Linked DNA regions of Homo sapiens. The protein of the gene in region 2 purifies or fractionates together with the protein of the main gene of each other region. This does not show direct contact. Each region holds a gene or a part of one and is shown on either strand. Other genes may lie near its edges. The genes, in order: RAB10, RILPL1 and RAB12.

Region 1 (10,593 bases), on a different chromosome or scaffold from region 2:
GACCACACAGCCAGGCGTGGTGGCTCACGCCTGTAATCCCAGCACTTTGGGAGGCTGGGGCGGTGGATTGCTTGAGGTCAAGACCAGCCTGACCAACATGGTGAAACCATCTCTACTAAAAATACAGAAATTAGCCAGGTGTGGTGGTGGGCACCTGTAGTCTCTGCTACTCAGGAAGCTGAGGCAGAATTGCTTGAACCCCTGAGGCGGAGGTTGCAGTGGGCCGAGATCACGCCACTGCACTCCAGCCTGGGCCACAGAGTGAGGCTCAGTCTCAAAATAAATAAATAAAGTTGACCACATGAATTAAATCCTCAACCTTACTATACATTTGTTCTATGCTCCCTTTTCCAGAAAGGCCCTATCCTACCCCTCTGACTCTATTCCTATTAGTCCTTCAGACTTCATTTATTTATTATTATTTTGAGACGGAGTCTGGCTTTGTTGCCCAGGCTGGAGTGCAGTGGCACAATCTCAGCTCACTGCAACCTCCGCCTCCCAGGTTCAAGTGATTCTCCTGCCTCAGCCTCCTGAGTAGCTGGGACTACAGGTGCCTGCCACTACGCCCAGCTAATTTTTGTATTTTTAGTAAAAACGGGGTTTCACCATATTGGCCAAACTGGTCTTGACCTCCCGACCTTGTGATCCGCCCGCCAAGGCCTCCCAAAGTGCTGGGATTACAGGCATGAGCCACCGCGCCCGGCCCAGACTTCATTTTAGGTATCATCTCCACGTAAGCCTACTCAAACTCCTCACGATTTAGACTAGCCACTCTTCCTCCCTGTGCTTACTATTGTAGCATCTTCCACACTATTATGATTATCTCACCGGAATGCTCCTCAAGGGGTCTGTTGTGTTCATCATTTATTCCCAGTGCCTAAAAACAGTGCCCAGCATTAGGTGCTCAATAAATATTTGCTGACCCATCTGATCACCTAACCCTAGCCAGCTACAGCTAAAAGTGGAGTGTTAAAAGCAAACAGTGCTAGGGAAGTGCTAGCGCTAAGTGCTAGTATTCTCTAACCCACAAGTTAGAGAACAAGCTCTAAGTTTCATGAAATTTATGACAGACCAAGAAAACAGTATGATACTCTGGAAATAAGGATTATGATAATTTGCCTCCCAAAAAAGGTAAGCAAAATAAAAATCTATTTAAAAAATCACTTGTCCAATTTAATTTCAGTATAATTTCTTTTGTGAGAATGAAGCAGGTATTTGTCACAAAAGAAAACCCAAACCAAATATTTCAGTTACGCTATACAAACTGTTTCAAATCAGCTTAATTTTGACAATTCCCAGAGTTCAAAGACGACTGCCGTTGCTTTTTAAAAGCCTCTCAATATAAAAGTACATTTAAAAATGGGTTCAACTGCACCGCCACAATGCTGAGAGCCATGTGTCTTTTAAGAAATTTATTGCGGAGCGGATGGGTTTCACAATTAATATAGCACAATTAGCGTCAATGCCACTTAAATTTTCTAACCAGATTCAAAAGGGACTTTCCTAGAGCCTTCCCTTTTCCTTTCCTAAACGGGAAATTCGATTAAAAAGGTCACTCTTTAGCTCTTACTTCCACACTAAGTAATTCTGAAACATGGTGAAAGTGCATTATAAGTCCATAGGGCTATGACTGGCAAAATACTTTCCTGTAAATACTAGAGTCAAATAAAATAGAAGAGAGAGCTTGACTTCACTCCGTTGGGTTTGAGGACAGAAACTGATCATCTCCCTCAGATTACTGCTTCTGTTGATGTCTCGAAAAGCACTGAGGCAAATATGCCAGAGTCCCACCCCAAGCGCGAAGAGCCTCCGATTGTTTGACACATCAATGGATTAGTGAATGAGGGCAACTCACTCTTCCCTTCTAATTTACCTTAATTATTCTTCTCAGAAACCCTCAAGTTTACTCTAAGTTATCACCATATGGAATCTTTTCTTTGCCCCAAAGTATAAATTCAGGCCTTTCCCAAATAGCTAGTACTGCTTCAATCGCAACCACTGAAATAAATACCTTAAAAATATCACACATCTACTAATTCCACGCAAATGTGGAAAAAGCCAGTCCAGTCGCCTGAAGAAATAAGGTTCTGGAACATGGTTAAATGATGCATATTTTGTAACAGAAGGCACTGAGCATAGTGGGAGACTCGAAAGCAAAAGACCGGATGGAAATCATGGGAAGACCCCGCCCCAGTAAGCTCGATGCCGATTCAAACAGTAACTTGGATGTGTCGTTTGGAATCGGAATCACTGAAACAAAGGCGTATATTACGGGAAGCAAGATGTCTGGAGTAAAATAAACGGTATGCAGCTACCGAGACCGTACACCGTCCTCCCACAGGTCTTACCTATGGTGGAAATAAAGGTAGTATTGAAGGCATCATCCGAAAAACGAAAAAGGACGCAGGTCTTCCCCACTCCGGAATCCCCGATCAGGAGCAGCTTGAAAAGCAGGTCGTACGTCTTCTTCGCCATTGGGAGGAGCGGCTCGGGCTCTCGCCGCCGGCGGCCCCAAGGGATCGGTCCCTCTCACTACGGCCAACTCCTCACTCGGGCGTTCTCAGGCCGGAGGACCGGGGAAGCGTGGGAAAAAGGCTCGAGACGGCGCGGGCGACCTACGAACAGCTTTGAGGAAGCCCCGACAGTGGCGGCGTCCAGTGCCTCCGAGGGCGGCGACCGCGGCTCCGCAGCCTCTCCCAGCCCGTCCGCCCGGTTCCGGGGAGTCGGTCGGGACAAAATGGCCTCCCCTCCCCCCTCAGGGCTTCTCGGCCGGGACGCTCCCACGGGCGAGCAAGCCTGCTCTGCCGTCGAGGAGGCGCAGCGGGCGTGAGGACAGTCTCTCTCCCGAGCGGAAACTCCCTGCTAGCACGCGGCGAGGGCAGCGAAGAAGGACCCCTAAGTCGACGAGCTCAGTTACATAGCCCCAGGAAACCGAGCCACCCCGGCCAGAGCCACCTTTTCCCCGTGCCCTCTCACGCCGGCGTGCGCGCTGCCTGAGACGCACGCAAGGGCGTACGCCCGCCCTTCCCTCACGCCCTAGCCTTGCGGTCCGCCTCTGCGCACGCGCACAAGAGGGCATGGGGGCGCGCCGAAGTGGCGAGTGGAATGCTCCTGTCTCCAAGCCTCAGTCTGAGGCTGGACCCAGAGGGGAGAAGGGAGGGGCGAGAAAGGGCGAGGCCGCGGGCGCGCTCCCTGTGGCCGCCTGATAGGGTGCGCGGCGTTACGAGCACGCCCCGGGGGAGACGCTACCTAGCGACTGCGCAGGCGCAGCGCCCCCCCTCCGACCCCCGCCTCCCGCCTCCCGCTCCCCGCTCCCCGGGACACCCTTACAGAGCCCAGCACCTCCTTCCCCTCCCGGGGTCTCCCGCTGGACTGCGCTGCGGTTTCTCTGCACAGCGCTTGTCGGGTGTGTTGAGCTGGAGGTCTTGGCGCAGCGACGGGCTTGGGTGGCCATGTGTTCCCGTGTAGGTGGAGCTCGTAAACGCGAGAAAAAGCCGCGCCCTGGGTCATTTAATAGCCTCTTTGCTAGAACGAGACGCCTCCCGGCGTGCCCCCTCTCCAGGGCCAGCCCTGACGGGGAAACATGAGCGCTCCATCCGGATTGACTTCAAGAGCAAGAGTTTGAGATGGAAAAGCTGGCCACGCCGCTCGGGTTGGGATGAGGTAATCCTCACAACCTCTTCCTGGGCGAGGAGAGGAAGGTTGAGGAACACCTGGGCGCAGGAAGAACCTCCCTGCGAAGTGGAGGGTTCTGTGCGGTGCTCAGAGAACCTGCTTCAGGCCTTTGCCGTCCTTCAGGAATCCGGGAGAACCCGAGAGCGCTCTGCAGAGGAGGTGGGGCCTCTGCCTGCCGCCAGCGTCGTACCACTGGGTTGAAAATTGAAAGGTGGTCAAGCCTACTCCCAGTCCGACACAGCCTGCTTCCTCGCATTTTCTTTTTCTTTTTTTCTTTTCTTTCTTTTTTTTTTTTTTTTTTTTGAGATGGAGTTTCGCTCGTTTCCTCGCATTTTCTTTTTCTTTTTTTCTTTTCTTTCTTTTTTTTTTTTTTTTTGAGATGGAGTTTCGCTCTTGTTGCCCAGGCTAGAGTGCAATGGCACAATCTCTGCTCACTGCAACCTCCACCACCTGGGTTCAAGTGATTCTCCTGCCTCGGCCTCCCAAGTAGCTGGGATTACAGGCATGTGCTACCACGCCCGGCTAATTTTTTGTATTTAGTAGAGACGGGGTTTCACCCTGTTAGTCAGGCTGGTGTCGAACACCTGACAGGTGACCCGCCCGCCCCGGCCTCCCAAAGTGCTGGGATTACAGGCGTTAGCCCCCGCGCCCGGGCCCTCGCATTTTCTTTGCATTTGCTTTACCTTCTGTTCTCTCTCCCCATCAGTCCTGTTTACGCCACCCTTTTTCTCTCCTACCCTTCTGTAGTTGCAGTATGCATGCTGCTGACCTTCCATTCTCAGGGACATCCATCCCTCAAAGCACACCTAGGTGTGATGGCACAGGAGTTGAACCTGGTGAGCTGGTTCAACCTGATAAAGTGGAAAACGCTGAAGTATGTGGAAAACAAGAAACAGGGATAGAGAAGTAAAAACTACATTTTCACACACACCACCCCAAGATCGCCAAATCACCAAAATGTGTATTTGATATGTAATTAAAGTTAGACTTTCAGGCAATTCCGTCTTACATTTCTGTCTTATATTTCTGTCTTACATTTTTCCTTTCTTCTCAACCACCCCTAAAGCGTCCTTACCGAAGATACTTGTCTTCACTAATACAGCTTTCTCTTCAGTTGTTTTCTCCAATTGCTCCTAGTCTTGTCACTTAAACATTTTTTTTTTTTGAGACAGACTCTCACTCTACCACCCATGCTGGAGTGCAGTGGCACAATCTCGGCTTACTGCAGCCCTTCCGGGTTCAAGTGATTCTCCTGCCTCAGCCTCCTTAGTAGCTGGGATTACAGGCGTGTGCCACCAAGCCTGGCTAATTTTTATATTTTTAGTAGAGACGGGGTTTCACCATGTTGGCCAGGCTGGTCTTGAACTCCTGACCTCAGATGATCCATCCGCCTCAGCCTCCCAAAGTGCTGGGATTACAGGTGAGAGCCACTGCGCCTGGCCTCACTTAAACCTTCTTATCCTCTATGAATCATTCTGACTGTAGTCGGGAATGCCTTATGATAATAACAATTCTAAAATAGACTAGCTATGCAAATCACAAAGTGAGTGATGGTCAGTGCAGCACAGGTGTGTCGTCAATTCAGCGTCAGAAGGAAAATCTTGTTACCTTGATTATTCCTTTCAAAATAAGTTAGATTAACTCAAGCCTCAATGTTACAAAGTATTTTAAAAGTCTTGAAAGTTTTTAAGCTGGGCACAGTGACTGAACCTGTAGTCCCAGCTATTCAGGAGGCTGAGGAGGGAGGATTGCTTGACCCCAGGAGATTGAGACCAGCCTGGACAACAGAGTGGACTCCATCTGTGAAAAAATGAAGTGTTAAAGGTTTTGTTTGTTTTTAAGACAGGGTCTTGCTTGTTTCCCACACTGGAGTGTGGAGGCCTCACTGCAACCTCAAACTCCTGGCCTCAAGCGATCCTCCCACCTTGGCTTCCTAAGGTGCTGGGATTACAGGTGTGAGCCAACAGGCCCAGCCAAGACTTTTTCCTGTAGAAGGCCTAATTTGGGCCGGGCCTAGTGGCTCTCACCTGTAATCCCAGCACTTTGGGAGACCGAGGTGGGTGGATCGTTTGAGGTCAAGAGATCGAGACCATCTTGGCCAACATGGTGAGACCCCATCTCTACTAAAAATACATTAATTAGCTGAGCATGGTGGCATGCACCTGTAGTCCCAGCTACTCAGGAGGCTGAGGCAGGAGAATTGCTTAAACCAGGGAGTCGGAGGTTGCAGTGAGCCAAGATTGCACCACTGCATTCTAGCCTGGTGACAGAGCAAGACTCCATCTCAAAAAAAAAAGCCTAATTTGGAGAGTAATACCACTACGTAAATTTTGGGGATAATGGACAGTTGAAAAATCTGAAAAACCCAACACAAATGATAAATGTTTGAGGTGATGGGTAACCTCATTTGTAATGATTTGATCATTACACACAGTATGCATGTATCAAAAATCACATGTACTTCCATTAATATGTACAAATATAAGTAAAAAAGATTTTTTCACTTTATTTTTTATCCTGTAACCAACAATTTTATCACTTAGAAACCTTTCCCCATGAACTCATATTCTGAAACTTTAGGAATTATTACATTTATTAACAAATTATCGATCATAGACTTTTTTTTTTTTGAGATAGAATCTCACTCTTTCACCCAGACTGGAGTGCAGTGGCACAGTCTTGGTTCACTGCAACTTCTGCCTCCTGGTTCAAGTGAAACTCCTGCCTCAGCCTCCCAAGTAGCTGGTATTACAGGCACCGCCACCACGCCTGTCTTGAGTTTTGTATTTTTAGTAGAGATGGGGTTTCATCATGTTGGCAAGGCTGCTCTTAGACCCCTGACCTCAAGTGATCCGCCCTCCTCAGCCTCCCAAAGTGCTGGGATTACAGGAATGAGCCACCGCGCCCAGCCCCTGGACTACATTCTTTATAGAGCAATTCTGAAAAAAGCATAAGCCTTTAACTAGGGCGTGAGCCACCATCCCTGACCAGGATAGTCTTGAACTCCTAACCTCAAGTGATTTGCCCTCCTTGGCCTCCCAAAGTGCTGGAATTATAGGCGTGAGCCACTGTGCCCCGCCAGGATACCTTTTTTTTTTTTTTTTTTTTTTTTGAGGCAGGTTCTCACTCTGTCGCCCAAGCTGCAGTGCAGTGGAACGATCATGGCTCACTGCAGCCTCAGCCTCTTGGGCTCAAGCAGTCCTCCCACTTCAGCCTCCCAAGTCCCTGAGACTATGGATGTGCACCATTACGCCCAGCTAATTTTTATATTTTTTGTGGAGATGGGGTTTTGCCATGTTGCCCAGGCTGGTCTTGAACTCCTAGGCTCAAACAATCTGCCAGCCTTGGCCTCCCAAAATGCTGGGATTACAAGTGCGAGCCAACATGCCCCACCATATATTTTAAATCATAATTTGACCCCTGCACGTAACTCACAGATGAGGAGTCTGAGATTCAGAGAAGTTAGGGCCTTCCCAGAGGTCACACTGTTAGTGCAGAGCCTGGACTATACGGGCAAGGGAAAAGAGAAGAAAACCTCCACAGGACACCGTATTACCTCAAGGTGAGAATTGCGAGGATTGAGAGGCTCGGCCAGTACTTAGCATTTGGATTCTCTAAAGTTAATTAAAGGTTTTGCTGGAGTGAGGCCTAAGCATCAAGCTATATCTGCCAGTGAAGCAAGCAGAAGTGATCAAGGTATGGAAGATCTCTGACTCTAGAAAAGAAGAGTAAAATGGGGATCTACACAGGCCTAAAGGATAAACCTAGAGTTATGAAGAAATATTTCATAAAAGTGGAAACAGTGAAAAAAATGCCAATCTACTGCTAGTTTAGGGGTTATGCTTTTTTCAAAATTGCTCTATAAAGAATGTAGTCCAGAGGCCAGGTGCAGTGGCTCATGCCTGTAATCCCAGCACTTTGAGAGGCCCAGGCGGGTGGATCACTTGATTAGGAGTTTGAGACCAGCCTGGCCAACTTGGTGAAACCCCATCTCTACTAAAAACACAAAAATTAGCCAGGCATGGTGGCAGGTACCTATAATTCCAGCTACTTGGGAGGCTGAGGCAGGAGACTCGCTTGAGCCTGGGAGGCCGAGGTTGCAGTGAGTCGAGATCGCACCACTGCACTCCAGGCTGAGTGACAGAACGAGACTCCATCTCAACAACAACAACAACAAAAAATGTAGTCCAGGCCAGGCGCAGAGGCTCATGCCTGTAATCCCAGCACTTTAGGAGGCCAAGGTAGGCAGAGAGCTTGAGTCTAGGAGTTCCAGACCAGCCTAGGTAACATGGTGAAGCCCCATCTCTAAAAAAAGTAAGAAAAAATTAGCCTGACATGGTGATGAGTTCCTGTGATCCCAGCTACTCCGGAAGGCTGAGGTGGGAGGATTGCTTGAGCCTGGGAGGCTGAGGCTGCAGTGAGCCATGATCCTGCCACTGCACTACAGCGTGAGCAACAGAGTGAGACACACTGTCAAAAAAATAAATAGACTGGGCACAGTAGCTCACGCCTGTAATCCCAGCACTTTGGGAGGCTGAGGCGGGTGGATCACGAGGTCAAGAGATCGAGACCATCCTTGTCAACATGGTGAAACCCTGTCTCTACTAAAAATATAAAAATTAGCTGGGCCTGGTAGCGTGCGCCTGTAGTCCCAGCTACTCAGGAGGCTGAGGCAGCAGAATCGCTTGAACCCGGGAAGCAGAGGTTGTAGTGAGCTGAGATCACGCCACTGCACTCCAGCCTGGGCGACAGAGTGAGACTCCGTCTCAAAAAATAAAAAATAGTTGTGTGGCGACATGAAACTGCTCACCCACAATCTGCTGAGCTCGCATGTGCGGGGGATGGGGTCCCGTGGCTTCCCCCTGTGCCTCCAGGCCACCGAGGTCCGTATCTGCCCTGTGGAGTTCAACCCCCAATTTATGTGGCATCATACGTGGCACGTATCATACGTGGTACATATGATACCTAAGGTGGAGTGGTCGGCGTTCCTGGAGGCGGCCGATAGCTTGCGCCTGATCCAGATGCCTAAAGGGCCAGTTGAGGGATATGAGGAGAATGAAGAGTTTCTGAGGACCATGCACCACCTGCTGCTGGAGGTGGAAGTGATAGAGGGCACCCTGCAGTGCCCGGAATCTGGACGTATGTTCCCCATCAGCCGCGGGATCCCCAACATGCTGCTGAGTGAAGAGGAAACTGAGAGTTGATTGTGCCAGGCGCCAGTTTTTCTTGTTATGATTGTGTGTATTTTTGTTGACATATACCGTTTCCGAATTCTGCCGTGTGTATCCCCAACCCTTGACCCAATGACACCAAACACACAGTGTTCTTGAGCTCGATATTATATATTTTTTTCTCATTAAAGGTTCAAAACCAAAATAAATAAATAAATAAATAAAAATAAAAATAAAAAATAAATAAATAAATGGGAGGCTGGGCGCGGTGGCTAACACCTGTAATCGCAGCACTTTGGGAGGCCGAGGCAAGTGGATCACGAGGTCAGGAGATCAACACCATCCTGGCTAACACAGTGAAACCCCGTCTCTACTAAAAATACAAAAAATTAGCCGGGCATGGTGGTGGGCGTCTGTAGTCCCAGCTACTCGGGAGGCTGAGGCAGGAGAATGGCGTGAACCCAGGAGGCGGAGCTTGCAGTGAGCCGAGATCGTGCCACTGCAATCCAGCCTGGGCAACAGAGCGAAACTCTGTCTCAAAAAAATAAATAAATAAAATAAGTAAATAAATAAATAAAGGAGGGAGGGAGGAAAAGAGAAAGTAGTAGTCCAAATATTTGCAAAGCCAAGAAAAAAGAGGTATATTTATATGTTTATACTATCAATTAAGGTATTATCTCTATATTTTTCTAGAAAAAGCATAGTTGACCAGTTCATGGTTCTAGTCTTCAACTTAAGCTTTTAGGACCTGCCTCTACCTTATAAAAAACTCCTGCCTCAAAAGATATTGAGGCAGGATCATCTTTACCACTGTTCCCATGCATATTCAGTCTCTATACCTGATTTCTTACTCTTTTATCCCTCCCCAACTTGCTCTCCGTGTTCTTCATAAGAATTGAGTCTTCCAGGCCGGGCGTGATGGCTCACGCCTGTAATCCCAGCACTTGGCCAGGCTGAGGCAGGCGGATCACCTGAGGTCGGGAGTTCCAGCCTAGCCTGGCCAACATGGAGAAACCCTGTCTCTACTAAAAAATACAAAATTAGCCAGGCATGGTGGTGCATGCCTGTAATCCCAGCTACTCGAGAGGCTGAGGCAGGAGAATTGCCTGAACCCAGGAGGCGGAGGTTGCAGTGAACCGAGATCGTACCATTGCATTCCAGCCTGGGCAAAAAGAGGGAAACTCCGTCTCAAAAAAAAAAAAAAAAAAAAAAAGAGAGAGAATCGAGTCTTCCCTTGAAGGGCCAGCCGACTGCTACGTCATCACCTTGCTATAAAACCTTCCCCTCCAGTCTCCAGGACTTTGTGTATTTACTACTGCTTATTTCCTGTGTTCACACCCACAGTCTTCCTGCAGGGACTTCATGAGGATAGATCTTGGTTAGACTTTCCTGATGCTAAGTACTGATTGCCTAGTGGCTGGCAGCCCGTCAGTATTCTGCTCTGCCTGCATATCTTGACTTAGGCCTCCTCTTGTTAGAAAATAATTGCCCTACCAGGCATGGTGGCACATGCCTGTAGTCCCAGCTACTTAGGGGGCTGAAGCAGGAGGATTGCTTGAGCCTGGAAAGTCAAGGTTGCAGTGAGCCAAGATCCCGCCACTGTACTCCAGATTGGGCAACAGAGCAAGACCCTGTCTCAAAAAAAAAAAAAAAACAAAAAAACAAAGCCGGGTGCGGTGGCTCACGCCTGTAATCCCAGCACTTTGGGAGGCCGAGGTAGGCAGATCACAAGGTCAGGAGTTCGAGG
Region 2 (9,793 bases):
CTCTGAAAACAGGGCCCCAGCGTCCTTTCTGGAACAATCTGGAAAAGAAGGACAGACACCACAGCCTATTCAGGTGTGGGCAGAAGAACTAGTGGAAAGATTCGTTGGCTAATTCTGATAACTTTCCTCTGGATTTCACCCAATACGAAATTTGCAAAGCCAACTTAATTGTCTGTTTAGAGAAAGGGGCCCAGAGTAGAAAATTACAGTTAGAAAAACTCGGCTCTGGAAGGAATTTTTAGAATTACATATGACCGTGGGTGCTGGAGGCTCTGAATGCAGTACATTGGAAGTGAAAGTGAAGGTGCTAGAAAGGCTGATTCTTTTTTTTTTTTTTTTTTTTTAAATGGGGTATCGCTCTGTTGTCCAGGCTCGAATGCAGTGGTGTGATCTCGGCTCACTGCAACCTCCGCCTCTGGAGTTCAAGCAATTTTCCTGCCTCAGTCTCCTGAGTAGCTGGGATTACAGGTGCCCACCACCACACCTGGCTAATTTTTTTGTATTTTTAGTAGAGATGGGGGTTTCACCATGTAGGCCACACTGGTCTCGAACTCCTGACCTTGTGATCCACCTGCCTCAGCCTCCCAAAGTGCTGGGATTACAGGTTGAGCCACCGTGCCCGGCCTGAAAGGCTAATTCTTAACGACCTGGGAACAAATGGCTGAAGGATGCAGAACACAAGTCTCTTGATCTCCCCCTCCCTCAGCCCATGCAGAGACTATCTGGGCTCATGAAGCTTCTTGCAGTTTCTCCAGGCCTGAAACTCAAAGCTGTAGCTATCAAAGCATACAAGATAGATTCTGCTCATCCTCACATAGGAGTGGGGCTGGCGAGTGAGTTGGAGTTTAAGCAAAGCCAGTCCCATTTCCTACCAAGCACTGCATGAGAAACCCTTCCTGGGCACTAAGTACTGCAGAGAATCAAGACTGAAGGGCTTCCTCCTCCCAACGTGAGGCTACCGTGGGCACCCCGTATTTCTGTCTATCTAGCACTCTGATATTGCTTGGGGACCCATCCCTTCCCCTACTTTCAGGCCACTTGAACTGGATGGAGGTAAAAGTGCTCTGAGCGTCAAGGGTGAGGAGTCACAGACCCGGACGATCAATGTGCTGTCCTGTGATTGGGTTAGGGATAGTCATGTGACCCAGCTGGAGCCAATGGGACTCATTTCTGTGACTGATGGAAATCTTGGGAACAGAGACTCTGCACTGGAGTTTCAGACAGAAGAAAATGAAACCTGGCCGGGCGCGGTGGCTCACGCCTGTAATCCCAGCACTTTGGGAGGCCGAGGCGGGTGGATCACCTGAAGTCAGGAGTTAGAGACCAGCCTGGCCAACATGGTGAAACTCCGTCTCTACTAAAATTACAAAACTTAGCCGGGCGTAGAGGCAGATGCCTCTAATCCCAGCTACTCGGGAGGCTGAGACAGGAGAGAACTGCTTGAACCCGGGAGGTGGAGGCTGCAGTGAGCTGAGATTGTGCCACTGCACTCCAGCCTCGGCAATGGAGTGAGACTCCCTCTCAAAAAAAAAAAAAAAGAAAGAAAGAAAATGAAACCTGAGCCAAGGGCTGCCATGCTGCCATCCTCAGGCTGGACTGGACACCCAAGAATGGAGCCCACAGAGGAAAACCAAGCCAGGGGTGGAGGAAACAAGGCCTGGATCCAGCTGAGCCCCACGCTGTGGCAAGTTGGAACTTTTAGTTCCTTAGCCAAATTTGTTTTCTTTTTTTTTTTTTTGAGGCGGAGTTTCACTCTTGTTGCCCAAACTGGAGTGCAATGGCACGATCTTGGCTCACTGCAACCTCTGTCTCCCAGGTTCAAGCGATTCTCCTGCCTCAGCCTCCCAAGTAGCTGGGATTACAGGTGTGTGCCACCACGCCCGGCTGATTTTTGTATTTTTAGTGGAGATGGGGTTTCTCCGTATTGGTCAGGCTGGTCTCAAACTCCCGACCTCAGCTGATCCACTCGCCTCGGCCTCCCAAAGTGCTGGGATTACAAGCCTGAGCCACCGAGCCCAGCCCCAAATTTGTTTTGTTTTCTTTTTTCTTTTTTGAGATGGAGTCTCGCTCTGTCGCTCAGAGGCTGGAGTACAATGGCACAATCTCAGCTCACTGCAACCTCTGCCTCCCGGGTTCAAGCAATTTTCCTGCCTCAGCCTCCTGAGTAGCTGGGACTACAGGCATGTGACCACCACGCCCAGCTAATTTTTGTAGTTTTAGTAGAAATGAGGTTTCACCATGTTGGCCAGGTTGGTCTTGAACTTCTGACCTCATGATCCACCCACCTAGACCTCCCAAAGTGCTGGGATTACAGGCGTGAGCTACTGCGCCTGGCCTCCAAATTCGTTTTCTTAGGTTACTTTGAGTTGAGTTTCAATTGCAAATGGAAGGTTACTACTGAATCCATGATCTAAATGGTGTTGGGATCTAGAGGAAGCTTTTCTGGTGCCATGCGTCTTCCCTAGGAAATGTTTATCTCTAACCAGAACTGGGGCCACACTCCCTCCCCAGTGCATCAGGGACCTGGGGCCAAACTCCTAAGCAGCCTGAATGAAGCTGGAAGGGAGTCGTGCACCAGCCTGTACTCTCTAGCAATATCCGGCTAATTTTAAATTTTTTTGTAGAGACAGAGTCTCACTACGTGGCCCAGGTTGGTCTCAAACTCCTGGCCTCAAGTGATCCTTCTGCCTTGGCCTTTCAGAGTGCTGGGATTACAGATGTGAGCTGCCATGCCCAGCAAAGGGCATCATTTTCTTTCTTTCTTTTTTATCCCTCTCTCTCTCTCTTTTTTTTTTTTTTTCGAGACAGGGTTTCGCTCTGTCACCCTAGCTGGAGTGCAGTGGTACAATCTTGGCTCACTGAAGCCTCAACCTCCTGGGCTCAAACAATCCTCCCACTTCAGCCTCCCAAGTAGCTGGGACCATACCCAGCTAATTTTTGTATTTTTTGTAGAGAGGTGGTTTCACCATGTTGCCCAGGTTGGTCTTGAACTCCTGAGCTCAAGTGATCCTCCCACCTCTGCCTCCCAAAATGCTGAGATTACAGGTGTGAGCTACCGCACCCAGCCCCAAGGGCACCATTTTCTAAGAGGAGAGGGCCCAGCAGTGACAAACCTGCACGGCTCTGCATTGTCTACTCACAGGGCAAGAACTAACCAAGAATTTCCAAACATAACTGGATTTTAAAGGTTGGGGTATATGGGTAACACTCCACTTCCTCTCCCTACACGATCCGACTGGCTTTCCAACCCACACGCCCTGTTTTCACAAAGTTTCTTGTGGGTTTTGGAGGAAAGAACTGAAACCTCTTCTGTACTAAGCCTTGGATAGAACTGGAAGGCAGGCCCAGAGCCTGGAAGACCGTCTCAGGGGAGAGAATGCAGCTCCAACACTGCAAGCACAAGGCTGTCTTGCAGAGAGCTCACAGTGTGGGCTCTGGGGCCAGGCTACCTGGGTTTGAGCCCTGGTTCTGCCTCTTATTAGCTGAATGACCCTAGGCAGGTGCCTCTGTTTCCTTAACTATAAAATGGGAATGATGATGCTTCCACCCCACAACACCATGCTGAGGACTCAATGAGATATTCTGTGGGAACAGGACCCAGCACGTGTTAGCTTCTTAGTAGATACTGTCTAACAAAACCAGAGGTGTTAACCCTTTATCTGAAGAGTCTTAGAGGTCCATGAACCTCCTGAAATTGTTCACAAATTTTACAGATTTCTCTGGGGGAAATTTCAGGAGGTTTTATCACAACCTCAAAGGAATCTGTTGATGCCAAGAACCACTGAAGTAGCTTAAAGTCTAGTTGAGGGCAGGGACTAGGTCACTCTTTTTTGCGGGGTTCTCCTGCAGCAACCAAGGCCTGACTCTGCATGCGTTATGCAGTAACCCCTGCTTAATGGACAGAGGGCTACATGGATGAGTCATCAGAGAACTGCATAGATGGGGTGGACCCAGGGCCACCTGACATCTCAGAGCTGAGGTCTCAAGCTTCAGATGCACAACCCACCCCTACCTCGCTACCCTTATTTCCTGTCCTCAAAGGCCCAGAGATGCACCCCACCCCCATGAAACACACTCCAGCAAGCTCCTGAGTATCAGCCACTGGCCCAAGCCTCTCCCCTCTCGCCTCCCGCACTCCCCAAACCTCTCTGCCCAGAGACCCCCAGGAGGGACTCAGCATTCAGGAAGGGAGATGAACTCAAAGTCGGGGGCCAGGCCAGACGTCTCAGCAGGATGTGGTTAGTCACAAGCCTGGCCCTGGGAGCAGGTGCCAAGGAGGAAAAGTCAAAGGACACGTGAACCGCCAGGTCAGCCGAGCGCAGAAGCTGGCAGCGCATCACTTACAGTCGCTTGATGCCCGACTCCGGCTGGGGGGACGTCCTCGGGTGGGCGATGGGTGGGGGTTGGGGTATTCGGTTTTCCTCTTCCATTTCTTCACTGGAAGGAGATGAGAGGCGTGAGATAAAAGAGTCAAAAGTTCCTTGAGAACTGGAACATTCCAGAAGAGAAGTGTCTGATGGTCTGAGAGGGTGCATGCTTTTTAGGGGACCCGCATCTGTATTTCCAGTTTATTCTGAAGAGTCCAGCCAAATAGAACCACTCCCCGTTTCCTGTCCTTACACAGGCTTCCCTGTCGCTACACCTCTGTGGTTTCTTCTACCCAGAATATACCTGTCACTCCTCAACATCTCCCATATCTAAATACTACCCTATCCTTTCAGGAAGGCCCAGTTCAAATGCTGCTTCCTCCAGGAGGCCTTCCGATTTCCACCCCATCCACAAACTCGAAGAAGTGATCTCTCCCACTCTCCCATCTTTTTTTTTTTTTTTTTTTTTTGAGACAGGGTCTCATTCTGTTGCCCAGGCTCGAGTGCAGTGGTACAAACATACATAGCTCACTGCAGCCTTGACCTTGGGCTGAAATGATCCTCCTGCTTCAGCCTCCCAAGTGGCTGGGACTACAGGGTGAGCCACCATACCTGGCTAATTTTTAAAAATTTTTGTGTAGAGATGGGGGTCCCACTATGTTGCCCAGGCTGGTTTCGAGTCCTGGGTTCAAGTGATCCGCCTGCCTCGGCCTCGCAAAGTGCTGGGATGACAGGCATGAGCCACCGCGCCCGGCCTCTCCCATCTTTGAACATCCAGTATACAGTCAGTAAACCTTTCAATAAAAATGTGTGGTATTATATTTTTTATGCATCTCTTATCTTCCCCACTGGAGCAGGGACCACCTCTGGTGCATGGGTCCTTCCTTCCAGCTTTCTATTCAACAGATATTTGTTGTGCACCTACTGTGTGCCAAGCTCCATTCTAAGTGCTGGGAACTTAGCCATGGACAAGATAAATAAGACTTCTGGTCTCATGTTGCTTGTGGTCTCATGTGGAAACCTACAATAAAGCAAGCATGAGAGTGAACAGGATAATGTAGGAGGTGAAAAGGGCCACATAGACCATTAACACCGGGGCCGGGTTTCATTCATTCATTCATTTAAAAAAAGAGATGAGGTCTCGCTTTGTTGCCCAGGCTAGTCTCGAATGCCTGGGATCAAGCAATCTTCCCGCCTCGGCCTCCCAAAATACTGGAATTAAAGGTGTGAGCTCTGGTGCCCGGCCTGGGCCCAAGAGTTTCAGAAAGGGGTTGTGAGCTTGTATGTAAGTTCTTTAGGCCAGAGAGGGTACCCAAAAAAAACACTGATGAAATGCTTGTCTTCCAGGGGGTAAGAAGGTAACTGTACAGAAACTCTGGCTAACCTCAGTAAGGAGCCAGCTCGGGCCATCCAGCCCCAGGGACACTTGCCTCTTATAGTAAGCCAGCTCCTCCTGCAGCAAGAACACCTTGGACTTGAGCTCGTTCCTCTCGTGCAGCACGTCCCGCAGCTCCTGCAGGGTGAACCGGGGGCGGTTGGGGTCCTTGAGATCCATGGCCACCTTCTCTGCGTCGGAGATGCTCTCCTCTCCCACCGGCTCCGTCTGGAGGAGGCAGAGATGCTGCTAATGAATTCTTGGCAGCCACTGCCAGCACCCACTCTCTATCCTGAAGGAGCCCAAATTCTCCCCCTCCCGGGGTGCCAGCAGCCTGTGGAGGGTGCTATTTTCAGCACTCGCAGGCGGCCCTTGCTCACGTTCTGTACAGTTTCCCTCTGGAGGTGGAAGCCAGCAGCCACCTGTTCATTGTTCGCCTTCCCAATAGCCGAACCCACGGACCCCGCACCTCCCCACCCGACTTGGGGTTTCATTACAAACATGACAAGGCATCCAGGGAGGAGCTGTCACACCTCCCCTGCCCCCACCCTCGTACATCTGCTGCTTCCCCCTTTCCAGGCCTCCTTTCATCTCCTTACTAAGACCATTGCTAATTTGGCCAGAGTGGCTGGAATCTCAGCCTACACACAATTCTCCATTCCTTTTTCATTTGACAGTAAGTCATATCCATTTTCCCTGTTGTTATGGGCCTTCTGGTTAGGTCCTCTCCTCCCCAGTGGCTTTGAGTATCTGGAGTTCAGTGGAAGCCCGGCGGGGGTGCACACTCGGCCATTTCTCTGTGATGCGGGTGACCAACAGATCCCAGCATCATGCTAAGTCACCTGCCCCAGGTCACACCCACACCCATCCTCTCACCTTCTTGCATAGCGAGGGAGCCTTTTTAGAAAAATGTGGTAAAATATACATCATCTAAAATTTACCATTTGAACCTTTTAAAAGTGAACAATTTGGAAGTGACATTTAGTAAACTCACATGTCACACAACCACCACCTCTGTCCAGTTCTAGAACATTTTCTTCATACCAAAAGGAAAACCCATACTTATTATTTTATTTTTTTCTGAGATGGAGTTTCACTGTCACCCAGGCTGGAGTGCAATGGCATGATCTCAGCTCACTGCAACCTCCACTCCTTGGCTTCAAGCGATTCTTGTGCCTCAGCCTCCCGAGTAGCTGGGATTACAGGTGTGTACCGCCACACCCGGCAATTTTTTTTTTTTTGAGACGGAATCTCTCTGTCACCCAGGCTGGAGTGCAGTGGCACGATCTCAGCTCACTGCAAACTCCACCACCCGGGTTCAAGCCATCCTCCTGCCTCAGCCTCCTGAGTACCTGGGATTACAGGCGCCTGCCATTATGCCTGGCTAATTTTTGTATTTTTAGTAGAGACAGGGTTTCACCATGTTGGCCAGACTGGTCTTGAACTCCTGACCTCAAGTGATCCACCCGCCTTTGCCTCCCAAAGTGCTGGGATTACAGGTGTGAGCCACCGCACCCGGCTGAAAACCTGTACTTATTAAGCAGTCACTCTCTACTTCCCTATCCTGAGCCCTTGGCAAATGCCAATGTAGTTTCTGTCTATGGACTGCCTACCATGGACATTTCCCAGAAACAGAATCATACATTAAGTGGCCTTTTGTGCCTGGCTCCTTTCACTTAGCACGGTGTTTCCAAGGTTCATCCACGTTGCAGCACACACCAGCACTTCACTCTTTTTTTTTTTGAGATGGCATCTCACTCTGTCACCCAGGCTGGAGTGCAATGGCACGATCTCAGCTCACTTCAACCTCTGCCTCCTGGGTTCAAGCGATTCTTCCGCCTCAGCCTCCCGAGTAGCTAGCTGGGAATACAGGCACCCGCCATCATGCCCGGGCTAAGTTTTGTATTTTTGTAGAGACGGGGTTTTACCATGTTGGTCAGGCTGGTCTTGAACTCCCGTCCTCAGGTGATCCACCCACCTCAGCCTCCCAAAGTGCTGGGATTACAGGGGTGGGCCACCCCGCCAGCTCACTTCACTCCTTTTGATGGCTGAGCCATATTCCACTGTACAGATGTACCACAGTGTGTTTATCCATTCTTCAGCTGACGGACATCAGAGTGGTTTCCACTCTTTGGCTAATGTGAATAGCAATGCTAAGAACTGTATTAGTGTGGACACTTGTTTTCAGTTCTTCTGGTTGTATACCTGGGAGTGGGATTGCTGGGTCATGGGCTAATTCTGTGTTTAACTTGTTGAGGAGTTGTCAAACCGTTTCCCACGGCAGCTGCTCTATTTTACATTCCCACCAGCAATGCACAAGGGTTCCAATTTCTCTATATTCTTGCCAACAGTTATTTTCCTTTTTTTTCTTAATCACAAGGAAGCTTTTGCAAGTCAGCCAGTCAATCTACAGGTAGCCCACACTCTCAAAGGAATGGAGTGTCCCCAACACTCCTGAGCCACCAATGTCCCGTGACCAACCAGGAGTAGACAGAGGTCAGGACAGCAGTGAAAAAGCTCCAGAACAGGGAAAGGGAGAGGAAACAGACGTCCTTCCCAACCTCAAGAAAAACTCCATAGGCCCGGCACCGTGGCTCACACTCCTAATTCTAGCACTTTGGGAGGCTGAGGCAGGAGGATCACTAGAACCCAGGAGATTCAGACCAGCCCGGGCAACATAGCAAGACCTCATGTCTACAAAAAAGAAAAGAAAATTAACTGGGCATGGTGGCTTGCCCCTGTAGTCCCAGTTACATAGGAGGCTGAGGCATGAGGATCACCTGAGCCCAGGAAGTGGAGGCTGCAGTGAGCCAAGACTGTGCCACTGCACTTAAGGCAGTGTCTCCAACAAAGTGAGACCCTGTCTCAAAAAAAAAAAAAAAAAAAGAAGAAGAAGAAGAAAAACCCCATAGCAGCACAGGGAGAAGGGGACTAACTCCAGCCTGAATGTGCCCTGGACAGGAGGCTGAGGGATTCCAGAAGGCAGAGCCGAGAGGCTTCACACCCTGTGGGAGGCTGGAACCGGCTGTTCTGGGAAAGGACGTGTGAAAGGAGACAACACCCACTGCTGGGGCACGTCAGGTGACAGCAGAGCCACACACAGCAGGCCCAGGTTGGGGGAGCAAGCTGACCCTGCCCAGCCTTGGGGTCGGAGTCAGCACGGGGCAGCAGAGGAGGGGCCTCCATGCAGTGGGAAACTGAAATCTGACCCCGGCCGCCCTCGCAAGCTGTCTGGGCAGCTGAGGGGCTTCTTCCCACCCAAGAACAAGGGGAGGAAATGTTGGAGGATTTAATTTCCAAAGAAAGTATTCTAGGCGTCTGCTGATGCCACAATTTAGGTGGGCTGTGTCCTCAGAGGACATCTTCAATGTCCGATCTCCTCTGCAGCGCCTCCAGGGATGCTCCGGAACCACCCGGCAGCCACACACTCCATGTCTCCACCCAAGACCACATACAACAGGTGACGGATATGCGGCCGGCATTCAATCGCGCCAGTTCTCCTCTTTCCCTGGCCCAGCTTCACCAAGGAGCAACCCTGGATGTCTAGTTATCCAACATTTACTGAGAGCTAACTTTGTGCCTTGCTGGCCGTGGAGCTCAGCCCTGGGAACAGAGTCAGACAGATGGGGCTGAAGAGAAGATACACATAAATAGAAGCTTAAGGCCAGGTGTGGTGGCTCACACCTGTAATCCCAGTACTTTGGGAGGCTGAGGCAGGCGGATCACCTGAAGTCAGGAGTTCGAGACCAGCCTGGACAACATGGTGAAACGCTATCTCTACTGAAAATACAAAAATTAGCTGGGCGGCCAGGCACAGTGGCTCACGCCTGTAATCTCAGCACTTTGGGAAGCTGAGGTGGGTGGATCACGAAGTCAGGAGATCGAGACCAGCCTGGCCAACATGGTGAAACCCCGTCTCTACTAAAAAACACAAAAATTAGTCAGGCATGGTGGTGGGCACCTGTAATCCCAGCTGCTCGGGAGGCTGAGGCAGGAGAATTGCTTGAACCCAGGAGATGGAGGTTACAGTGAGCTGACACGGTGCCACTGT
Region 3 (9,793 bases), on a different chromosome or scaffold from region 2:
GTTCTAACATTCATGTAGAAATACTTTAAAGTACAGAGAAGAGAAAAATGGTCCTTTTTCTGACCACAGGTAATCAACAAACTGAAATATGTGGCAATGACATAAAACGTGACGTAAAAATGTAACAGACACCTGCAGCTTTTGGTACTTTTAGCTTTTAGGAATCTATAGTAAATAATGCACTTCTTCCAACAAGATCCTCCTATGAAAACCGAATGGCAATGCTTTCATGCCAGTCTAGAAAATCGGAGCAGAGCTATCTATTATTAGCATAGCACAATCCACTGCGCCTCCTTGAGGGACCGTTTCCAGCTACACAGGCGCCTTCTATGCCCTCAATGGATGAGAGTGAAACGACGACAACACGCCCACAACAAAGCAGGTTACACCAGCAGCAGCACAAGGGCTGTGCCTCACTCCTAAAGAAGCCACGCATTACTTTAAAACAGTAATACAAATTACAATCATGATTCTAACACTTCCTTTTTACCTGCTGCATAGCAATAATGAAGGAAAAGGTTTTCATCTTTTAAATAAAATATTTCAGAAGATAAAAATCTTATTTTGAGTATTATGTGATCAACAAAATGGCTGGCCTGTAGTAGATATATGAGTCACTGTTCAAAACCTTCCTGCAGGAAAAGAGTCACTGGAATATTCCATGTAGAAAACTTGCAATCAACCATTCCGTAAGTCCAATCCATTTCATTCTTCCTCCCTTAGTTACGCTCTTTGCCCATGCTGTACAGCTGCACAGATTTAGAGAATGAAAAAGTAGTAAAGAGTCAAGGGAGAATCAGGAGAGGGAGAGGGGTCATTTGGAGAATGCTTTCATATACAAGAGAAAAATGGTTTCTGAGTGCCCGCTGCTCTTCGTGGAGCCACAGTATCTCACTTTCTCCCCGAGGGGGATTCCATCAGGTAGGGCCCTCTTATCTCAGAGTCAAGGACATTGTAGTCAGATTCCAGGAGTGTACAATGTCACCAGCATAGACTTAGTGGGCAGAGCTCCAGGGAGGCACCAGGACATTTGGACATACTTTATAAATCATTTGGACATACTTTATAAAGAATACTGCCGCCAAAGATGAAGATGGAAGTATTAATGCATTAATTAAGACATGTGCCACAGTCATCAGGCATGGCTGTCACCAAGGCAGGCGTCACACATTCTAATAATGTTTACATCACTTTTGTGGGGCAATATTCTCATCAGAAAGTACCTCACACAGGTACTAGGAACAGAGAGAGGCATATCCCAAATCCTTGTGAAGATGGTCTTTACCTTATAGAGCTTATAATTAGAAACAGCAGCTTGTGTGCCAAACACTTTGTTGCCATTTCCAGCGTTTAAAAGCTGGGCAGCAATGCACAAAAAGTCTGCGGGACTAGCACAGGAAGAAATATCTATTTGTTGTTTATTCAAGTATTTAGACAAGACCTAATGTTTCATAATCAAGCCAAAAATGAAAATATGCAGACCAAATGCACAACAGAAAAGAAAACGAACAAAAACCCAAATCAAAAAATCTTAGAAGTGTGTTATACAGTGAAGGGTGACCAAATGAAGATATTACCTCAGACACCTCCAGAAGGCAGGCACTGCGGCTTGGCTGCAGCTGCGGCCCAGACAGGGACACGGATGAAGAATGAAGACATGGCACTAACATTCAAGCATTAGGTGACCGATGATGCCACAGATGAAGCAGCAATTAACGCAGATGAAAGCAAACACACACATGGTGGACAAACAATCAGAGCTGAGGGTGACCTGCCAAGAGGAGTTAGTAAGCTGAGTACACCGCAGCTGTAGCATTCAAAACAAAACGGCATTCTCAGAGCACCTCAATGGGGCTACTTTTAAGCCACCGCCAGACCACCAGACCAGATCTTATCCCTTCTTCCACAGACAGGTCGCTAGCACCTGCGGGCTGTTAACAGGTTAATAGCTAACAGAAAGCTCTTAGTGCTGAGTGCAGTTATAACACAGCTGGTTGAGTCTCTCATTCCAATTGTGATTTGAGAAAGGGGCCTGGATTCATTTCTAGTAGGCATTAGTGGGGGCTCACATCCCGTGGAATCAGCAGTACAGCCGGAAGGAGTATGCCCACCCGCAGTAATAGTCACATTGTGCCACCAAGAAGCTCTGGAACTGTCTGCAGGGGACCTGCCTTCAGATTGTGCAAATCTGGTTATGAACATATTGGGCTTTCTTTGAATACTATCATACAAAATAAAGACATGAAGACAAACATTTGAGCAATCATTTTAGTGGAGACAGTTTTGATATCACGTAAATAATTTGAAAATAGAGGCAAAAAGGTTCCAAACTAGCTACCATTAAAGTAACATTCTTCTGTCCACAACTGCTCCCCATGTGCAAGTGGCATATAACATAACAGCCTTATCTAAATTCTCTCTCTTGATGGAAACACTGTCCATTTAATTTTAAAATGAGCAAAAGAGGAGAAAGTAGGAGAGGCAAATCAGCTCAAACAGTTCATTTTATTAGACAAGTACATGGACTGTTAAACACACACAGCACATTACTGGGTGCACACTCTCCCACTTACCAGATCTGTAATCTAATTTTCTTTCCTCTTAGCTCTACAGTTTTGATTTTGAAGTCAACACCTGTAAATAAAACAAATAAATGTGAAGCAAAAACAACAAAGATGCAATTTGTCATACAAAATAATCCTATTTGTGTATTTTGTTATCATTATCAGAAAAAAAGAAAACCCCACGAAACCTGACATCACTTAATTCCAAGGAAAAGCAGTATCTGCACCAGTGTCTATAACCTCCCATCTCTCACGCTTCAGTCCACACTGGGAAGGTCAGCCCATGTTATGTCTTATCCTGAGTGATCGGTCTAGTATTTGCTGTTCATAACACAACTTATAACTACCACAGTTCAGCATAGAAACCAGTTTAAAATTACATTTAATAACTACATCAACAAATAAGTGGCTTTAAAAGGATGTTTTCTCAGGGAAAATTCTTATATGGAACACTGGAAACTTAATCAAACTTAATCAACTTTAGTCAAATAGCCTTAGTCTGAATTTAGAAATTATTGTACTAAAAATTTCAGTACTCATGAAAATTTTAGGTAAATATAAACATAACATTATATGATCAACAGTGAGAAGATTTTAAAATTTACTCTTACACAAATTAACATACCCAACTTTAATTTTTATTCATTTTAATATTACTAAGCAAACCATCATGTATATTTCCTTTTCAATTTAGCCTGTAAAGCTTCAGATATATTTTTAAAACCAAGTTTTCATTTGTGTATGCTACCTTATATGCCTTCCAGTTATACAAAATGTAAATATTTCACAACAATATTTTATTACACAATTTTCATAACTAAGGGAAACAAAAGGGATGCTGGCTGAATTTAGAATTAGAGGCACCTTCCCTACAGGAACGACTTCCTGACAGCTTCCTTGGGACCCAGGGTGTAGACGATCCCAGCTCCCCGGGCCAGCAGGTGCCCATGTTTGTGAGTGGTATGGTGGCTGCAGAGGGCAAGGCCCTGGCCATGCCCCTGACTGCCCGTCTCTGGGCACCAATGAGGTGCTGCAGTCAGATGAGGCTCTTGAGGGGAAGTGGAAGACATGTGACCGATTTTTATAATTAGTAACACTGTGGACACCAATGCCACACAAAAGGCATGTTTACAGCCCTGGGGCAGGGTGTGGCCAGGGAGGCAGCCCTCCTGCCCTAGGAGAGAAGTTGCATGAATATAAAATGTCACAAGAAAACAAAGCTAGAGAGCACTACTCCATGTCAATTCTTAACCTCTCACATAACACATAATTTCAGATGTCCCTGAAGGAAAGCTACTTAATTCAATTTCACTTTCAGTTCTGGAAATGATTTGCTTTCCAAAGTCAAAGGAAGCTCAGACACTGCCTTGACCCAGGAAGCAGGTTCTGCATGATGGAGAACTTGAAGACAGTGGCTTAACACTCAGCTGCAAGGAAACTGCAATTTCAAGTGACACTACACAAGACGCACAAAATAGCGCAGATATTTGCTATCTGGTTTAAAGCAGCACAGTTTAATGACAAAACACTGTCTTCATATTAATGTAGAGTTAGGATTTCACTGCTGCCATGCTACTCTGTGATGGAATTTACTAATCAAATGCATAATCTGTGATGACTACTATTCTATTGTTGCGGGAAGTCAGGGACCCCAAACGGAGGGACCAGCTGAAGCCATGGCAGAAGAACGTGGATTGTGAAGATTTCATGGACATTTATTAGTTCCCCAAATTAATACTTTTATAATTTCTTATGCCTGTCTTTACTGCAATCTCTAAACATAAATTGTGAAGATTCCATCGACACTTATCACTTCCCCAATCAATACCCTTGTGATTTCCTATGCCTGTCTTTACTTTAATCTCTTAATCCTGTCATCTTGTAAGCCGAGGAGGATGTATGTTGCCTCAGGACCATGTGATAATTGTGTTAACTGCACAAATTGTAGAGCATGTGTGTTTAAACAACATGAAATCTGGGCACCTTGAAAAAGAACAGGATAACAGCAATGTTCAGGGAACAAGAGAGATCACCTTAAACTCTGACAGCTGGTGAGCCGGGCGGAACAGAGCCATATTTCTCCTCTTTCAAAAGCAAATGGGAGAAATATCGCTGAATTCTTTTTCTCAGCAAGGAACATCCCTGGGAAAGAGAATACTCGCCTGGGGGTAGGTCTACGGGGTGGCGGGGGGCCCTGGGCGTGGCCGTCTTCTATGGTCAAGGCTGTAGGGGTGGAATAGACCCCAGTCTCCCGTAGTGCTCCCAGGCTTATTAGGAAGAGGAAATTCCCACCTAATAAATTTGGGTCAGACCGGTTGCTCTCAAAACCCTGTCTCCTGATAAGATGTTATCAATGACAATGGTGCCTGAAACTTCATTAGCAATTTTAATTTCGCCCTGGTCCTGTGATCTTGCCCTGCCTCCACTTGCCTTGTGATAGTCTATTACCTTGTGAAGTATTTGATGTCTGTGACCCACACCTGTTCACACACTCCCTCCCCTTTTGAAAATCCCTAATAAAAACTTGCTGGTTTTGTGGCTTGTGGGGCATCACGGAACCTACCGACATGTGACGTCTCCCCTGGATGCCCAGCTTTAAAATTTCTCTCTTTTGTACTCTGTCCCTTTATTTCTCAAACCGGCCGACGCTTAGGGAAAATAGAAAAGAACCTACGTGACTAACGGGGCAGGTTCCCCAATATTCTATTTTACTTTTGTTTCCAATTTCTTCAAGTAAGTTAGTTTTTAAAATGTAATTAAAGGAGCTGTAACTTTTGTAAACCTTGTGGCAGTGGCTGCGACTTTATTGAAAATAACTGGCAGATGATATTTCTTTTGAGCTCTGCTTCAAATTGACTAAGAGTCCCTGAAACAGCTAGAGCAGATAATCTTTGTTTTGACTACAGTTTTCTCTGCTAACAATGGAGTCTGAATATGTCAGACTGCCTTTCCCAACCAACTTGAACAACTTACCGAACTCCAGCAGTCCTACACTAGGACTATTTTGTAATCACAACATTTAATGAATAAAAATAAAAGGCTAGGACATTAATATTCAAAATCAGGAAATAAGTGGTAACATTATCACTATGTAATTATAAACACATTATTAGTTCTAATAGGAAAACAAAGCAAAGATTACCCGACAGTAAATAGGGCTAAGAACCTGTTTTAGCATTGAGTACTCAGACAAAAAGAAGGGAACAGACACTGGGGCCTACCTGAGGGTGATGGGTAGGAGGAAGGAGAGGACTGAAAAACTACCTATCAGGTCCTATGCTCACTGCCTGGGTGACAAAACCATCTGTACACCAAACCCCCATGACACGCAATTCACCCATGTAACAAACCTGCACATGTACCCCCTGACCCTAAAATAAAAGCTGGAAAGGAAAAAAACAAAAGAAAAAAAGAATCTGTTTAGCCAAAATGAAGACTATCTTATAGTGAGTAGATGAATGACAATTAACAACACAACAGAAAAATACCCAGTGGCCAGATCTACGGTTCCATGAGTAAAACCAGTTCCTTAAAACAGTCCTCGCTCTTAAACAAAATATCCTATACCTATACCACATCTAACAGACATTAAGTAGCCTGCAATGACTGGAAACTTAATCCAATTTTTGGCTTAGAAACATATACCTCTATCAAAGTACATGACTAAACATTTCTAAAAACTTTCTTATATTAAAAGTCAAAAATATCCCTTAATGTTGTCTATTTTTAATACTGGGATGTCATAGAAGTGATAATGATCCTCAATAAAAGGAAAAAAGTCATGAATAACCTCAAATATCTGGCAGATGATTTAGGAAAAGTCAACAGAGTTCCTGTTACAGAAGAGGAAATGTTTACAAACAACCAAGGGACAAAGAGGGTGGCGACTTCACTACTGTCTACAACCCTGTTGAAAACCGGTTTCCTACAGGTTATCTTGACTAAGGGAGGAAGCAACGAGCCCCCACCACTGTTGATGGGGACAGTCCCTGCCTTTGAAAACCTCAGTCATACTGACCTAAATTAACACACCATGCACTTGGCAAAGCATCTGTCTTTGCTGTTCTCTCTTCTTAGAGAAACTCCTTGTCTGCCCAGAACCCTCTGAAGCCCTAGATTTCCCATCTGACCTCTTCTGACTGCACCCACCTTTACCCTTGTCTTTATCTATGTTCCAGTTCTTGGCCCTGAACTCTCTTCTAGCCCATATCACATCGTTCCTTCTTTGCTGGCCTCCCCGACAGGCTACGTGCCTGCCCTCCGAGGATGTAGTCATCTTCAGCCCCCTAAAGTCTAGGACACTGCCTGGCACACAACAGCAACTCAATAAATTTGATGGCTGGAAACTGCTCCCTCTTCTCCATCAAATGCTGTATATGTAAGAAGAAATGCAAATTATTTTTGGGAAAAAATAGGGAAATTCAGGACTGATTAGTTAAAAAAAAAAAGGCATCTGAGTAGCAGGTGTGGAATGGAAGCAGTGAACGCAGGGGTGCCCAGGACACAGGGGAAATATGAGTGTGTGCAGCAACACAACCTCTCATTTCTCCTACAGTTCCTCACAGGATGGGGCAGACATCCTTGCTCACAGCCTCTCCCTACACACACTAATCTCAGAGGATTACGGTAACAGTTTCTCCATTCAGTCCCTTAGATACAGAACTGGTCTACCAGGTGAATTAGTCTGGTGAGAGGAGCTTGCTTTTCTTTAGGCTTACCAGTTTTGTGGAAGTCTTTCTAAAAGTATTTTAACAATGCTTTCTAAAAGCACGCAGGCTACAGAGATACAGTATTATCAAAGGTCTTAGACTGCTCTGTTTAAGTCAGTCTTTTTTTTTTTTTGAAGCAAAAAAAAAAAAAAAAAAAAAGAAGAAGAAAAAAAAAAGAAGGCTTTGTCACCCAGGCTGGAGTGCAGTGGCAGGATCCTATATAGCTCACTGCAGCCTCCAACTCCTGGGTGATCCTCCCACCTCAGCCTCCCGAGTACCTGAGTCTACAGAAGCACACCACTGTCACTAACTGATTTTGGTTTTTGTAGAGATAGCATCTCACTATGTTGCCCAGGCTGGTCTCAAACTCAAGCGATCCTCCTACCTCAGCCTCTCCAAGTGCTGGGTTTATAGGCATGAGCAACTGTGCCGGTGTCTTATTCTTGACCTTAATTTCCTTTAGTACTAATGACAGTGGACATCTGTCAAATACTCCATGTCTAATACCCAACATATCCAAGCCTCACAGCAGCCCAGTGACGGGGAAACTATTACCCCCATTTTATAAAGGAAGACAACATGATGAGCAGAGAGAGGACAGGGTAATTTGCCTACAGTCATACCACATGACAGAGAAGCAGCAGAACCAAGACTCAAATTTACACCACTGCCCACAATGAAAGGTTATTATAATAAAAGTCAGATGGGTGAAAAGAGAGAAAAGCGTGAGATGTTCTGAAGTGGCTCATAGCTCCCACAGCCAAGCTGTTAAGACAAGGCCTGACTCTGCGCTCTGCCTTCTTGCTGGCTGTCTTTCACATGTCTAGCAACAGCGGGAGGAATCCCTGGACTTAGTGCTTGTAAGATTTCTATGTTCCCCTTAAAGCGAAACATTTGCACACTACTGTTTCTTTTTGCTGGGCCATAAGAAGTTACAAAAGTGAAAATGGCAAAAACACACGGAAACTTCTTTCTTTACACTCCTTTCCAGTAAAAAGCCTAACCACCACTGTGGTCCACATCTAGGACTACGGCCAAGCGGACTGTGCCCTCTTCTTCCATGCCCAGGTCACTTCTCCTCGTTCCACCAAAGATCTGGAGTTTGGACCAGACCATAGATTTTACTTAATACTTTCAAGAAGTTGAAGAATTTCCATAGACTTGGAAGTAAGTCTCAATACAAACAGTAGTTGTCACTGCCAATTTATAATAATGACCTTAAGTTTTATATAGTGGCTGTTCTTCCAAGGATGTATCTTACATAATGTTAAATTGGATATAATATTCTACTAAGGGATTGGATTGTAAGCATTTTCAGTGAGTTGTGAGAAAATAAATTAAGGAACATGTTAAGGTTACAGAGAGAGGCAAATCTAGCATTAAAATCAAGTCATGTGGGCATAAGGCCAGTCTTCTGCCCAAACTCTACCACCTACCGGGGAAGAGTTCAAAATGAATTCTCGTCCCATATAAGGAAAAGAGAATGTGGCTGAGCACGGTGGCTCACACCTGTAATCCCAGCACTTTGGGAGGCCAAGGCGGGTGGATCACGAGATCAGGAGATCAAGACCATTCTGGCTAACACGGTGAAACCTCGTCTCTACCAAAAACACAAAAAATTAGCCAGGTGTGGTGGTGGTGGGTGCCTGTGGTCCCAGCTGCTCGGGAGGCTGAGGCAGGAGAACGGCGTGAACCCGGGAGGCGGAGCTTGCAGTGAGCCAATATCGCGCCACTGTACTCCAGCCTGGGGGACAGAGCAAGGCTCTGTCTCAAAGAAAAAAAAAAAAGAGGAAAAGGGGATGCAAACTCACTGCTAGTAGACCTGTCTTGTGACATCCTACTATTTAATATTATCTGGCTTTTCCTATCTAACCTGTGTGGTAAGGATTTAAATAGAAACTAAGTACTATAACTATAAAATATTTTGATCAACTCAGAAGCAGGTACTATTAAAATCCTAATGTTACTATGCGTCATTAAAAAAATGCTTATCCAGGCCTGAGGATGTCAAATTGCATCCAGGTACAAGAAGACCTGTCCTCGCTTGCACTCCAGGGTTGGCACGCTCCCACCCAGCAAATAAAGCCCACCCTGTACACAGAAGCACAAGGAGACAGCCTTGCACTTGACTGGAACAAACAATGACACCACGGACTGCATCAGGGAGGGGAGGACAGAGGGACAGTTGGAGGTCCTGGGCCTCCAAGGAGAGGCGTGGCTGGAGCCCAGCAGAGTGAGTGGACAGTTCCTCTCATGGAAGTGTACACACGTATGAGAATTCCACAGAAAGGTGTATGTTCTCTTCACAAATGAAAAGATTAAGAACTTTTGTGGTGTTTGCTATATTTCAGATAATATTCTAAGGGCCTTATCTACATTAACTTATTGCAGTGTATATTCATTAACAATATTATGAGGTATATATTACTGTCTATATTTTATAGATGAAAAAACAGAAGTCAGGGAAGCTGGTAGACTGCCTAAGGTAACCAAGCTGGTGAGCATGAGGGCACAGATTTG

What was found.
Region 1: the proteins of RILPL1 (region 2) and RAB10 purify together in Homo sapiens (co-immunoprecipitation; 3 studies listed by BioGRID and IntAct, with this or other methods). This does not show direct contact.
Region 3: the proteins of RILPL1 (region 2) and RAB12 purify together in Homo sapiens (co-immunoprecipitation; 2 studies listed by IntAct). This does not show direct contact.

The regions. Positions count from the first base shown.
Region 1 is NC_000002.12:26,026,491-26,037,083, reverse strand, and holds the start of RAB10 (ras-related protein Rab-10), read right to left. Parts: upstream 3,001-10,593; 5' UTR 2,476-3,000; coding exon 2,349-2,475; intron 1-2,348. UniProt on the Homo sapiens protein: The small GTPases Rab are key regulators of intracellular membrane trafficking, from the formation of transport vesicles to their fusion with membranes.
Region 2 is NC_000012.12:123,479,836-123,489,628, forward strand, and holds part of RILPL1 (RILP-like protein 1), read right to left. Parts: intron 5,971-9,793; coding exon 5,798-5,970; intron 4,438-5,797; coding exon 4,345-4,437; intron 1-4,344. UniProt on the Homo sapiens protein: Plays a role in the regulation of cell shape and polarity. Plays a role in cellular protein transport, including protein transport away from primary cilia.
Region 3 is NC_000018.10:8,617,779-8,627,571, reverse strand, and holds part of RAB12 (ras-related protein Rab-12), read right to left. Parts: intron 3,589-9,793; exon of another isoform or gene 3,559-3,588; coding exon of another isoform or gene 3,429-3,558; intron 2,635-3,428; coding exon 2,574-2,634; intron 1,772-2,573; exon of another isoform or gene 1,578-1,771; intron 750-1,577; exon of another isoform or gene 1-749. UniProt on the Homo sapiens protein: The small GTPases Rab are key regulators of intracellular membrane trafficking, from the formation of transport vesicles to their fusion with membranes.